Linked DNA regions of Homo sapiens: regions 1, 2 and 4 are each linked to region 3. A link means that fine-mapping ties the variant in region 3 to the plasma level of a protein whose gene starts in the linked region. Region 3 holds a variant in brackets. A gene starts in each other region. All regions are shown on their reverse strands.

Region 1 (2,500 bases), not on the chromosome of region 3:
TCAGCACATCCAGCAGCCAGAGGGTTTACAAAGGGCTCAGTCCCTTCGGGGAGGCTTCTGGTGAAGGAGGATCGCTAGAACCAAGCTGTCCTCTTAAGCTAGTTGCAGCAGCCCCTCCTCCCAGCCACCTCCGCCAATCTCTCACTCACCTTTGGCTCCTGCCCTTAGGGTTACCTGGGTTGCCAAGCCTTGTCTGAGATGATCCAGTTTTACCTGGAGGAGGTGATGCCCCAAGCTGAGAACCAAGACCCAGACATCAAGGCGCATGTGAACTCCCTGGGGGAGAACCTGAAGACCCTCAGGCTGAGGCTACGGCGCTGTGTAAGTAGCAGATCAGTTTTTTCCCTTGCAGCTGCCCCCAAAATACCATCTCCTACAGACCAGCAGGGACACTCACATCCACAGACACAGCAAAGACACAGACTGGCAGAGCTAGCTGTAAATGAGGAAAGACTCCTGGAGTCAGATCTCTTGCTCATTTCTCTTTGAGCAGGCGTTGGGGGTGGCTGCTAGGCATTTACATGTGAAATTTGCAAACAGCTTTCCTGTTATTTGTGAGTCATTTGTGGGTTATTAACTACTCCCCTCTCTCTTCATAAAAGGAGCCCAGAGCTTCAGTCAGGCCTCCACTGCCTCTTTGTAACTAGACCCTGGGCGGGGAGCTAAGGTTCCCAAGCAGAGGAAACATCATTCACCTCTTTTAATCTCAATGTTTTGAAAGCAAAGCTCTAAGAAGGGCCCAATTGACTGACAGGATTTCCCCTGGCATTTTAGAAGGGACAAGGGGGCTATTCATCCCCAGGCTAGTGTCTATGAGTAATTCCTCCAGGTAATTTATTTCTCCAACTGAAATGATGCCCTCACTACTAATGGTTTCCCCTGTTCTGTCACCAATATTGGAAAATCAGTTGGTGTCTATTTGTAGGACAAGGCTATGTGAAGGGTTTGGTCCCAGTAGCTTCCCTCCTCAGATGCTTAGAAGTGTTCCTCGGTGGCTGTGACTGACGGGGAGGAACAGGAGAGAGAGGCAGAAAAGGACAGGCTGAAGAATGCCTCGCTCAGCACTGCAGGAGATACTGTAGAGTTCTGGGGGAGGAAGGAATCCCAAGACCTGGGTTGTCATCCAAGCCTTGCAAACATCTTGGAGTGAGTCCTGGAGAAATACATTTAACTCCCAGGGCCATGGAAGCAGGGCTCAGTTCTCTCTGGGAGCTGTGAGGCAAGGCATTTGGATAAATCTGGCCTCCTCATGATGCCACCAGCTTGTCCCCTAAGTGTGATGGACATGGAGCTGGAAGCCAGGATCACCAACACTTTCTCTTTTCTTCCACAGCATCGATTTCTTCCCTGTGAAAACAAGAGCAAGGCCGTGGAGCAGGTGAAGAATGCCTTTAATAAGGTGAGCTTGGATGGTGGCAGAGAGGGTCTGCAGAGCACAACCCATGCCCACTCCCCAACCCCAAAGCATGGAAGGTGGTGGGGACTCAATAGGCCCCATTCTTCATTGGAGAGAGTGTGGGAACCTGACAGATGGTATGACCTGCTCAGCCAGTGAGGAGCTGCTGCCTTGATTGTATTTGTTTTCTGTTAAGTGTCTTTGGGGGTTTCTAAATGACTGCTCGCTGCCTTTGCAGGCTTGCGGGTTAGGCTGGCCGGCCAGCCTGTGAACACAGTGAGCTGCATGCTGGGGAGAGTGACAAAGGAAACAGAAAGTACAGAAAGTAGCTTGTTGGGAATCTAGGCTGAACCCACACGTGCAGGAAGCTGGCACATAAATGTGCACATACAAATACACCTGGGGGTTCAGCCCAGACTCCCCAGAACTCAGAATGAGCAGGAAGCTGGATTCTCACTTAACCTGGAGTTGGTTCAAGCCCGCTTTCCATCTGCCCTTCGCACCTGCGGAGGTGCCTGAGAATGTCAGTTCCCAAACGAAATGGGGTTTCACACTTCCAACTGTGCGTGAACTTTTTCAGTCTGATTTCCCAGAAACCGTGCGGCCTATGTCCTCCTCGTGGGCTGGGGACAGACACTGCACAGAGTGCCAACATCAGGGGGTGTGAATTTCTCATAGTAGGTCAGGGCGGCAGGGCAGGGCCTGCTCAGTGTGTTGGTGGGAGAACACAGACATTTAAAAGGCTCCCTCCTCTCCTCTCACCGTCTTGCTTTCGAAGCGCTTCCTCTAATGTCTTTTCATCAAACTCTGCATAATCATCATGTGAATACGTGACCTTTAAAATTGTTGAAAAGGCATCATTTTGAAGACAGTGCTTTGCAAAATGAATGCTCCCCTTGCTAGGGGGAGGCCTGGAGGAGATGAAGGTCAATGCACAGCCTTTCCCAAGGCAGCTAGGCCTATCCTCTGGTTTACTTCCCAGCGTGAGGGAGAACAAGCAACCTCTGCACTCAAGGTCATGCCCATCCATGAGCATGAGGGAGGGGAGCCTATTTAGTCCCCAGAAAGGATTTTAACTGTATGTTTCTTATCTCTCTGCACAGC
Region 2 (2,746 bases), not on the chromosome of region 3:
GCCAAGTCTGTCCGGAGCCTGGTGGGCTCCGAGGGGAGGGGCTGTCAGGGACACACAGGCAAAGGGATAACTGAAACCCCTTGCCTATGGGGGGAATGGTGGGGGCTCATCAGTGTTTGTTGAATGAATTAGTGACCTGAACCCAAACCTCAAGGCTGTTCTCCTGAGCTGTGTGCTGGGGCGGAAGGGGTCTTCTAGGGCTACAAGGAATATCCCTTTGGGAAACATCAGCCCCCGTTGCTAGGATGTGGGAGGGGTGCCACCGACCACACTCACACGGCCCCGTTAAGCACAGCCAGGTGGCGGGTGAGGTAGATGGTGTCATCCTTGATGGTCAGCAGGATGGACTCCACCCCGGCGGGGGCCTCAGCCTGGCCCGGACCCCGCTTCAGGTGCACAGCAAATTCCTTGTAGGAGCCTCGGCAGTCGGAGGCGAAGTTGTAGTCGCAGGGGCCGGGGAAGCGGAAGACGTCCCCGTCGAAGGTCTTGTAGTGGAAGTTGCCCCAGGTGCTGCAGACGTTGTGGCCGTGGTTTCGGGTTCTGCCCTCTGAGGGAGCAGCGGGGAATGAGGGGTGAGTGGCCCCGGAGGGGGAAGGCTGCCCAAGCTACCCTCGAGAGAAGGCCCCTGAAGAAGCACCTGGAAGCAGCTTCGAGCCCAGCACAGGGCCCCTGGCCGGGAAAGGTTCCTTCCTATCCTCGGGCCCTCTGCTGGGCCTTGGTCACCCCACCACAGGGGTCTCAGGGCTTCTACCCCCGGCCTGGTGAGGAGTGCGGCCGGGTGCCAAGCGGGATGTAGGAGAGGGCATTCTGGGCACCCCGCTCCCCAGCAAGGGCTGTGCTGCCCCAACTCTTCAAGGGTCTCTGCCACCTGAGAATGGGGCCTTCTGGTGGGATCCTGGCCACCCCTTCCTCCCCTATGGACAATGACCCAGTTCACTGGGGCCTGACCTGCTGTTTCCACCTGGTGCTGGCCCCAAGACCCACACTGTCGTCGGGCAGTCAACCCCAAAGGAATAGCAGGGGAGCCCCGACCTTCCAGCTCCTTGAAAGTCAGCAGGGCCGGGGGCTTCCAGGGACCAACCCGGGCCAGGAGCCTCAGCAGAGCCGCGCAGGCTGCACTCTGGGACCAGCTCCTCCTCCCAGACGCGACTTGCCCGCCCGCCTCGCCCTGCCCCCAGGACACTCTGCCAGGCCCCAGACCCCTGTGTCTGCTCTCTCACCTGTCTGGAGCTCCGAGCCCCCTGCCAAAGACAGGGCCAGGCACACAGCCGCCAGGCGGGCTAGTGGCAGCCCCATGGTGGCTGGCAGGGGCGGTGTGGGTTGCGCCCGGGGGCAGGGGTCTGGTCCTTATATGTCCTGGCAGGAGGGTAGGAGGGCAGGAAGGCAGGGGAGGGCCAAGGGTGGGTGTGGCATCTGCCAGATGATCAAGAAGACAGCTGCGGGGGCCCGAGCCCCAATGGGGAAATATTGATTCAGGTTATCGGAGGTCATCTCTTTATGGCTCCCTGGGTAAACGCAGCCTTCTTCAGGATGAGGCAGCCCTGTAGCCTGAATGCCAACACACACCCGGGGAACACATGCAGCTACTAGAGGGGCGAGCCCAGGGTGGCCGGGGGAGGGGTGTCCTGCCAGAAGCAAGTCTGGTCAGGCTCCTTAGCCCGCCATGGGCCCCCAGACACCCGCTGAGCAGGTCCCCAGGCCTGATCAGGCTCACGTTACGCTGGGAGGACCAACCCATTCCTGGGGCCCAAGCTCTGGGGCAGCTTCCAGGCCTGACCCCAGAAAGGGGCCTCCCCGAGGGCAGGGAGGATGTGGGATCCTTCAGGGTCCGGGGGGGCCACTGACTTGTGTGGGACTCTTGGCCGGGCTCATGGAGCTGTGTCAGAGGCCCCAGCCCCCAACCACCCCCTATGCCCATCCTTTTCCCAGGCTGAGCCCTTCTCTGCAGTTACATGTAATTAGAACTTGGGGAGTACATGCCCAGCCAGGGGACATGTTACGGAATCAGGCACACAGGGAGCTGGCTGGTGGCCGGAAGTGGCCGTCTGCCCCTTCTCCTGGGGACCACATGAGGACCTCGGGCCTGACAGCTGAGGAGGTGACAGCCTGCCCAGGCTCCCCAGAACTACCTCTGACTCATGGTGGGGATCCTGCCCCCAAGGCTGTGCCTTTGATGAGCCTTGGTCTCGCCCACCAATCCCAGCAGTTGTCTGGAAAAAAGCCTGGAGAACCGGAACTCACACCGACCCCAGACTACGAGACCACTGGGCCCACCACTGCTTGCCCCGGCCCGGGAGGGCACAGGCAGGCACCCCTGTGTCGCCAGTGGGTAAACTGAGGTCTGGGGGCCCTCCCCTCTCTCTACAATTTTCTCCTCCTGAAAATAGAGAGGGGCCCTGAGTTGAGTTCCTGGCTTTGGCCTGAACATGCCAGGGACATGCCGGCAGCATGATGGCAGTGGGGAGGGACTCACCCCAACAGTTATAGAGACTCGGGGCCCAAAGCACCAAGCCTGTTTCCCTGGCTGACCTGCTGCCCAGACCCAGGGCCTGGGACGAAGCCCCTCCCGCCCTCCTGCGGTGCCCGCCAGCACCAGGCCCCAGGGTCTGCGCTCCCTGCCAGGACCTGGGCACGTGGAGGAAGCTCAGTGTGTGGCCCCTGCCAGGAGGACCGGGGATTAGGAAACCAGAGCCAGCTGGGCGAGGCCAGAGGAGATCATTGTTCACTTCCTGGTGTGGGCCTCCGC
Region 3 (2,746 bases):
GAATTATTGGTGATGGCCTGGATGCGGTTTTGTATGAACTGAGAAACTAAACAAAAGAGTGGCTGCCAGGTGAGTTGAACAGTCTGATTTTCATTGGGGGTCCTTCACAGATGGGACATGGCTTAGGAGGAATCCCGGGCTGCGGGCATTCCTTGGCCCGGTGGCCAGATTTCCAAAACTTGTAGCAAGCTCCTGGGGGAGGAGGTTCTGGAGGAACCCCTGGCAGCTGCGGTTCAGGCGTTTGGAGTTCTTGTGTTCTGGAGATGTGGCTGGGGTTTGTCTCACGGTGGAGGCAAGGAATTGCAACTCAGAAATACATTGCTACGTGGCTGCCTCTACTCTTATTATTGTACACCTTGAAGGCGAGGTTAATTAAGTCCTGTTGTGGGGTATGAGGGCCGGAATTTAATTTTTGGAGCTTTATTTAATGTCAGGAGCAGATTGGGTAATAAAATAAAATGCATTTTGAGAATAAGACGGCATTGTGACCTTTCAGGGTCTAGGGCTGTAAAACATCTCAGGATTGCTGCCAAATGGGCCATGAACTGGGCTGGGTTTTATATTTGATGAAAAAGAGCCTAAACGCTAACTGATCTGGGAGAGGTCGGATAAAGAAAAAGGAGCATTAACCTTGACTGTGCCTTTAGCTCCAGCCACCTCTTTAAGAGGAAACTGTTGGGCAGATGGAGGAGGGCTAGTCACGGAAAGAAACTGTAAGCTGGACTGGGTGTGAGGAGGGGAGGTAATAAAAGGATTATAGGGTGGAGGAGCAGAGGCTGAGGAAGAATTGGGACCTAGCTCGGCCTGGTGAGGAGCAGCCTGGGAAGGAGGGGAGAAGTCAGATGGGTTTGTAGAAAAGGAAGATTCAAGACTCAGCAACGCTTGGGGTTGGAACTGAGGGGACAGGCAGGAGGGAAAGAAGGAAGATTTGGGATGAACTGCATTGGGAACAGAGACTAGGGAGGGACCGATGTATAAAAGAATGCCTGAACGTCAGGCACCTCAGACCATTTGCCCATTTTATGACAAGAATTATTTAGATCTTGTAGGATGGAAAAATTGAAAGTGCCATTTTTTGGCTATTTGGAACCACTGTCTGGTTTGTATTGGGGTCAAGCGGCATTGCAGAAGAAAATAAGACATTTAGGTTTTAGGTCAGGCGAGAGTTGAAGAGGTTTTAAGTTCTTGAGAACACAGGCTAAGGGAGAGGAAGGAGGAATGGAGGGTGGAAGGTTGCCCATAGTGAAGTAGGCAAGTTTAAAGAGAAGGGTAGAGACACGGAGAGAAGGGGTGGGGGATGCTTATCCCCCAGGAAAGTGGAGAAGGGATGGGAGGTGCTTGCCCCCCAGGAAAATGGAAACGGGGTGGGGGGTGCTTGCCCCTCAGGAAAGTAGAGAAGGGGTAGAGACACGGAGAGAAGGGGTAAGGTGAGCAGCCAAAGCAGGCGTCCCTGCAATTGACTTGCCACCAAGGGATGTGGGTGAATGACCAAGGCAGGTGTCCCCGCGGAGATCAGACACAAATGGAATGTGGGTGAATAATCAGGCAGTCGTCCCC[A/G]CAATGATTAAACACCAAGGGAAGGCTGCCTTCCCAAGTCCGTGACCGGCGCCAGAGTTTTGGGTCCACGGATAAAATGTGTCTCCTTTGTCTATACCAGAAAATGAAAGGAATTTAAATTAAGAGAAGGGAGAGATTGAAGGATGGTGCCAAGATTGAAAGGAGAAAGAGGTTGAGGGATAGTGAGAGAGGTTGGAGAAGGAGTAAAAGAGGCCACTTACCCAATTTAAAATCAGTGAGATGTTCCTTGGGCTGGTTGGTCTGCGGACCTGAGGTTGTAGGTGGATCTCTTCAGGGAGTGAAGGTGAGGACAGGGGACTGCTGTCCCGAAGGAGTCCCGCTGACCCGGGTCTTCGGCACCAAATGTCTCATGCGTCCGTGTGAAGAGACCACCAAACAGGCTTTGTGTGAGCAACGAGGCTGTTTATTTCACCTGGGTGCAGGCGGGCTGAGTCCAAAAAGAGAGTCATCAAAGGGTAGTGGGATTATCATTGGTTCTTATAGGTTTTGGGATAGGCGGTGGAGTTAGGAGCAATGTTCTGTGGGCAGGGGTGGATCTCACAAAGTACATTCTCAAGGGTGGGGAGAATTACAAAGAACCTTTTTTTTTTTTTTTTTGAGACGGAGTCTGGCTCTGTCGCCCAGGCTGGAGTGCAGTGGCTCTTTCTCGGCTCACTGCAAGCTCCGCCTCCCGAGTTCAAGCCATTCTCCTGCCTCAGCCTCCGGAGTAGCTGGGACCACAGGCGCCCGCCACTACGCCCAGCTAATTTTTTTTTGTATTTTTAGTAGAGACAGGGTTTCACCGTGTTAGCCAGGATGGTCTTGATCTTCTGACCTCGTGATCTGCCCGCCTCGGCCTCCCAAAGAGCTAGGATTACAGGCTTGGGCCACCGTGCCCGGCCTACAAAGAACCTTCTTAAGGGTGGGGGAGATTACAAAGTATATTGATCAGTTAGGGTGGGGCAGAAACAGATCACAATGGTGGAATGTCATCAGCTAAGGCTATTTTCACTTCTTTTGTAGATCTTCAGTTGCTTCAGGCCATTTGAACGTATATGAGCCGGTCGTAGGGGATATGATGGCTTAGCTTGGGCTCAGAGGCCTGAAAATCGCCCCCACCAATCACCTGTTTCCCCCAATCTACCCTCCTGAAGGTCACTGACAAAGACTTCATTGTCTCCTAGGAGAG
Region 4 (2,746 bases), not on the chromosome of region 3:
GACTTTATCTAAATAACCTCTAATGCCTTAGTTTTCTCATCTATGACATGGGGATAATAATATTAACTACATTATAAGGTTGTGATGTGAGGTGAGAAAAAGCACCAAAGGTGTTTCACCTGTAATATGCATTATGTAAATATTAGAAAATAATCATTGTTTTTCTTCCAAATGAAATTGCTCTTTTCTTAACCTCTCTCTCACACACAATAATTTCTTTATTGGCTGTGTCATCAGCAGGGAGTGGGCAACAGGCACCACTCTTTCTCATGAGCTTCTATCAACCAGAACAAAAGTATCTTTCAATTCATGTATATTTTATCCCAAAATGTAACTTCTGTCTATACACTGTAAGGTACCTTATTTCCAAGAGGAAGCAAACATTTTACAGAGAAAGATCTTCATGAACAATGTGATGCTTCTTTATAACCTCATATCATAATTAGAACTTCAAGAAATTCAAACTAATTGGACATCACTTTGTATATCCCCTTGACTGTTTTGTTCATCTCATTGCTTAGAAAGGAGTGTGGCACTTAGTAGAACTTCAACAAATATTTGTGAAATGCTCAATAGATGAGATGTGATGTCTTTTCACAGTTGATAACTATGTCTTATGCCTCATTGAAGCTTCTAATAATAACACACAACCCACAAAAGAAGGATTTGTGGATAAGGAGAAGGATAGGTAGAAAAACAATGATTATAAGGGAAAAGAGAACAAGATAAAGAATCAATTTTTAAAAACATAGTAGGGTATATACAGAGTCCAATTTCCCAAATACTTCATAGGTCTATCGGTAGATCATTACAATGAAAACAAGAGTCATTCTTACCTGTCCTATATTGCCAGCCATACTGCAGAGGCAACCCCCATAAAATATTCTGTTCATTATCTGGTGCAAATTTTGCAAAATACCTGGCTGTCTGATTCAATATGATTTTATACATCCCCATTCTCTCAAGGTATACCCAGGGATTAATAATGTACATGCTGTTCTCCACCCTGTAGTCACTGAGCTGACCAGGACTCTCCTTCCACAGAGGGGGCTCTGTCTCTGAGAGATTGGAAGTCCCTGCTAAGGAAGCAGAAAAGGAACCAACTAGTACACAAACCCAGGAAGGAAGAAAAGCCATTGTGCCAGAGCTGGGGATTGCGATCGTAGCAGGGCTTTTATTGGAGAATGGAAGAGGAAGTCATGATATTTGCTAACCTCACAGCATATCAACACTTTGCTTTTTTGTTTTCCTGGATAGGGTGAAAATGTAGAAGAAATTGATGTATTAGCTAACATTTAGGACAATTAAATTTCCCAGACTCTTCAGCGTCAGAATACTGTGTCAGAACCTAAATACAAGGTTAGGCTTGTTTATAATGTATTAGATAAAACTATTTATCAACAAAAACCTTCCAGAAGTTTCCCAGGCTGCATTGTGATTACAAAATACATCACAAATGGCTTTAGAATGCTTCCCTCTAATAAAAATACTTTAACATATTTCATGGAAAATATTAAATAGCTGGAGATGGAAATACTAGGATTTATAATAATCTTCAAATGTGTACTAAAAATATGTGTGATCCAGTTGTAATACAATGTTCTGCTTCAAGAAAGAAGCTTAAAGAATATCTAATTAGCTCAATTCAATAATGAAAGTCAGCCTGCTGGAACAAAACCTGCTAGTTAATTCTTAATATCTATTTTTCATTCTTTATTAGTAAAAGAATCGTAGAATTTTAGCTGGGAATATGGTCTCCCAGAATTAAGGCTAAATTTCCAATTTGCTTTACACAAGCAACCATGTGACTAAGTGTGGACCACAGAGACATAAATAGAAATAGTATCCACAATTTCTGGAACATGTCCTAAAATGAAGGGCACATGTCAATTCCTCTTCCCTTCCTCCATGTTGTGGCTTGGATTATTGATGTGATGATTGAAATTCAATTCTGACCCCTAAACGCAAGGCACTATCTTAGGGATGACAGAATGCAAAGCTGGAGGTGGCTTGAGTCCCAGAGGGCTGTGGAGCCATGAGATGTCCTTGAATTCCTATATCTGAGTTTTACCTGAGCAAGAAACACCCCACTCTCTTGTTTCAACCACTGTTATTGAAGTTTTATTCACACATAGTAAAAATTCTTGCCTTATTAATAGGTAATGCATCTGAAAATCTCAATTATTTACACAATTAGATGCATATGCTTCATAGTAGGTCACTGGTACTGCTTGTTCCTGGCATGGTCCACATTAAACATCCTACAGCATGATTCCACTCTTTTTTCCTGTCATATTATTTACCCAATAGCCATTTGATAATTAATAAATTTTCCAGATATATTAATATAAAAGGGAATGGTAGGAATTGCTACTATAGATCAAGAATGCAATCATTCTGGAAATTTTAAAAGTATATTAAATGTTTATAAGAATATATACGTGAATATGTACTGTAAGATGTGTTACTCTAAAACCAAATGCCAGATTGTTCTCAATGGAGAAATCTTAAGAGCACTCCTTTAAGGTCAGAAATAAAATAAAAATGACCACCAGCATTATAATCATTTAACTTTTCTTTGAGGATACCAAACAATAAAGTTAGTAAAGATAAATAAATTAGAGGTATAAAATTGAGAATGAAGATGTGCTAGTACTTTCCCTTATAGATGATATGACAGTGTTCAGAAAACATAAGAGAATAAACTAGAAGGGTAACTACAAAGAAAAAATTTACTAAAGTGGTT

Which allele goes with the higher level. Alleles are on the strand shown, and positions count from the first base shown. The strength of an association depends on the size of the effect and on how common the allele is.
For the plasma level of the protein whose gene starts at base 455 in region 1, G is the low allele of the variant in region 3 and A is the other (weak association).
In carriers of allele G in region 3, the plasma level of the protein whose gene starts at base 1,324 in region 2 tends to be lower than with A alone (moderate association).
With allele A in place of G in region 3, the plasma level of the protein whose gene starts at base 1,149 in region 4 is higher (moderate association).

What was found. PIP is the chance, under the fine-mapping model, that this variant and not a neighbour inherited with it causes the effect. The UK Biobank Pharma Proteomics Project read protein levels with antibody pairs (Olink). The fine-mapping took linkage between variants from a reference panel, not from the people measured, so its PIPs are less certain.
Region 1: IL19 starts here. The variant in region 3 is fine-mapped to the plasma level of the IL19 protein (UK Biobank, PIP 0.99).
Region 2: it holds the start of MUC2, and the variant in region 3 is fine-mapped to the plasma level of the MUC2 protein (UK Biobank, PIP above 0.99).
Region 4: it holds the start of C6orf58, and the variant in region 3 is fine-mapped to the plasma level of the C6orf58 protein (UK Biobank, PIP above 0.99).

The regions. Positions count from the first base shown.
Region 1 is chr1:206,768,728-206,771,227 of GRCh38, reverse strand. It overlaps IL19 (interleukin 19), which reads right to left and starts at 455. Exons shown (of 7, transcript NM_153758.5): 1 at 150-455. IL10 (interleukin 10) reads left to right here. Exons shown (of 5, transcript NM_000572.3): 3 at 169-321; 4 at 1,334-1,399; 5 at 2,500. RefSeq lists enhancers at 105-294, 1,855-1,964.
Region 2 is chr11:1,073,452-1,076,197 of GRCh38, reverse strand. It overlaps MUC2 (mucin 2, oligomeric mucus/gel-forming), which reads right to left and starts at 1,324. Exons shown (of 58, transcript NM_002457.5): 1 at 1,221-1,324; 2 at 277-547. The coding sequence starts at 1,296.
Region 3 is chr19:5,846,801-5,849,546 of GRCh38, reverse strand. All of the region lies in intron 1 of FUT3 (fucosyltransferase 3 (Lewis blood group)), which reads left to right. LOC101928844 (a long non-coding RNA gene) reads right to left here and starts at 2,080. Exons shown (of 4, transcript NR_110740.1): 1 at 1,779-2,080. The variant A/G (reference allele first, on the strand shown) is at 1,558.
Region 4 is chr6:127,575,577-127,578,322 of GRCh38, reverse strand. C6orf58 (chromosome 6 open reading frame 58) reads right to left here and starts at 1,149. Exons shown (of 6, transcript NM_001010905.3): 1 at 837-1,149. The coding sequence starts at 1,137.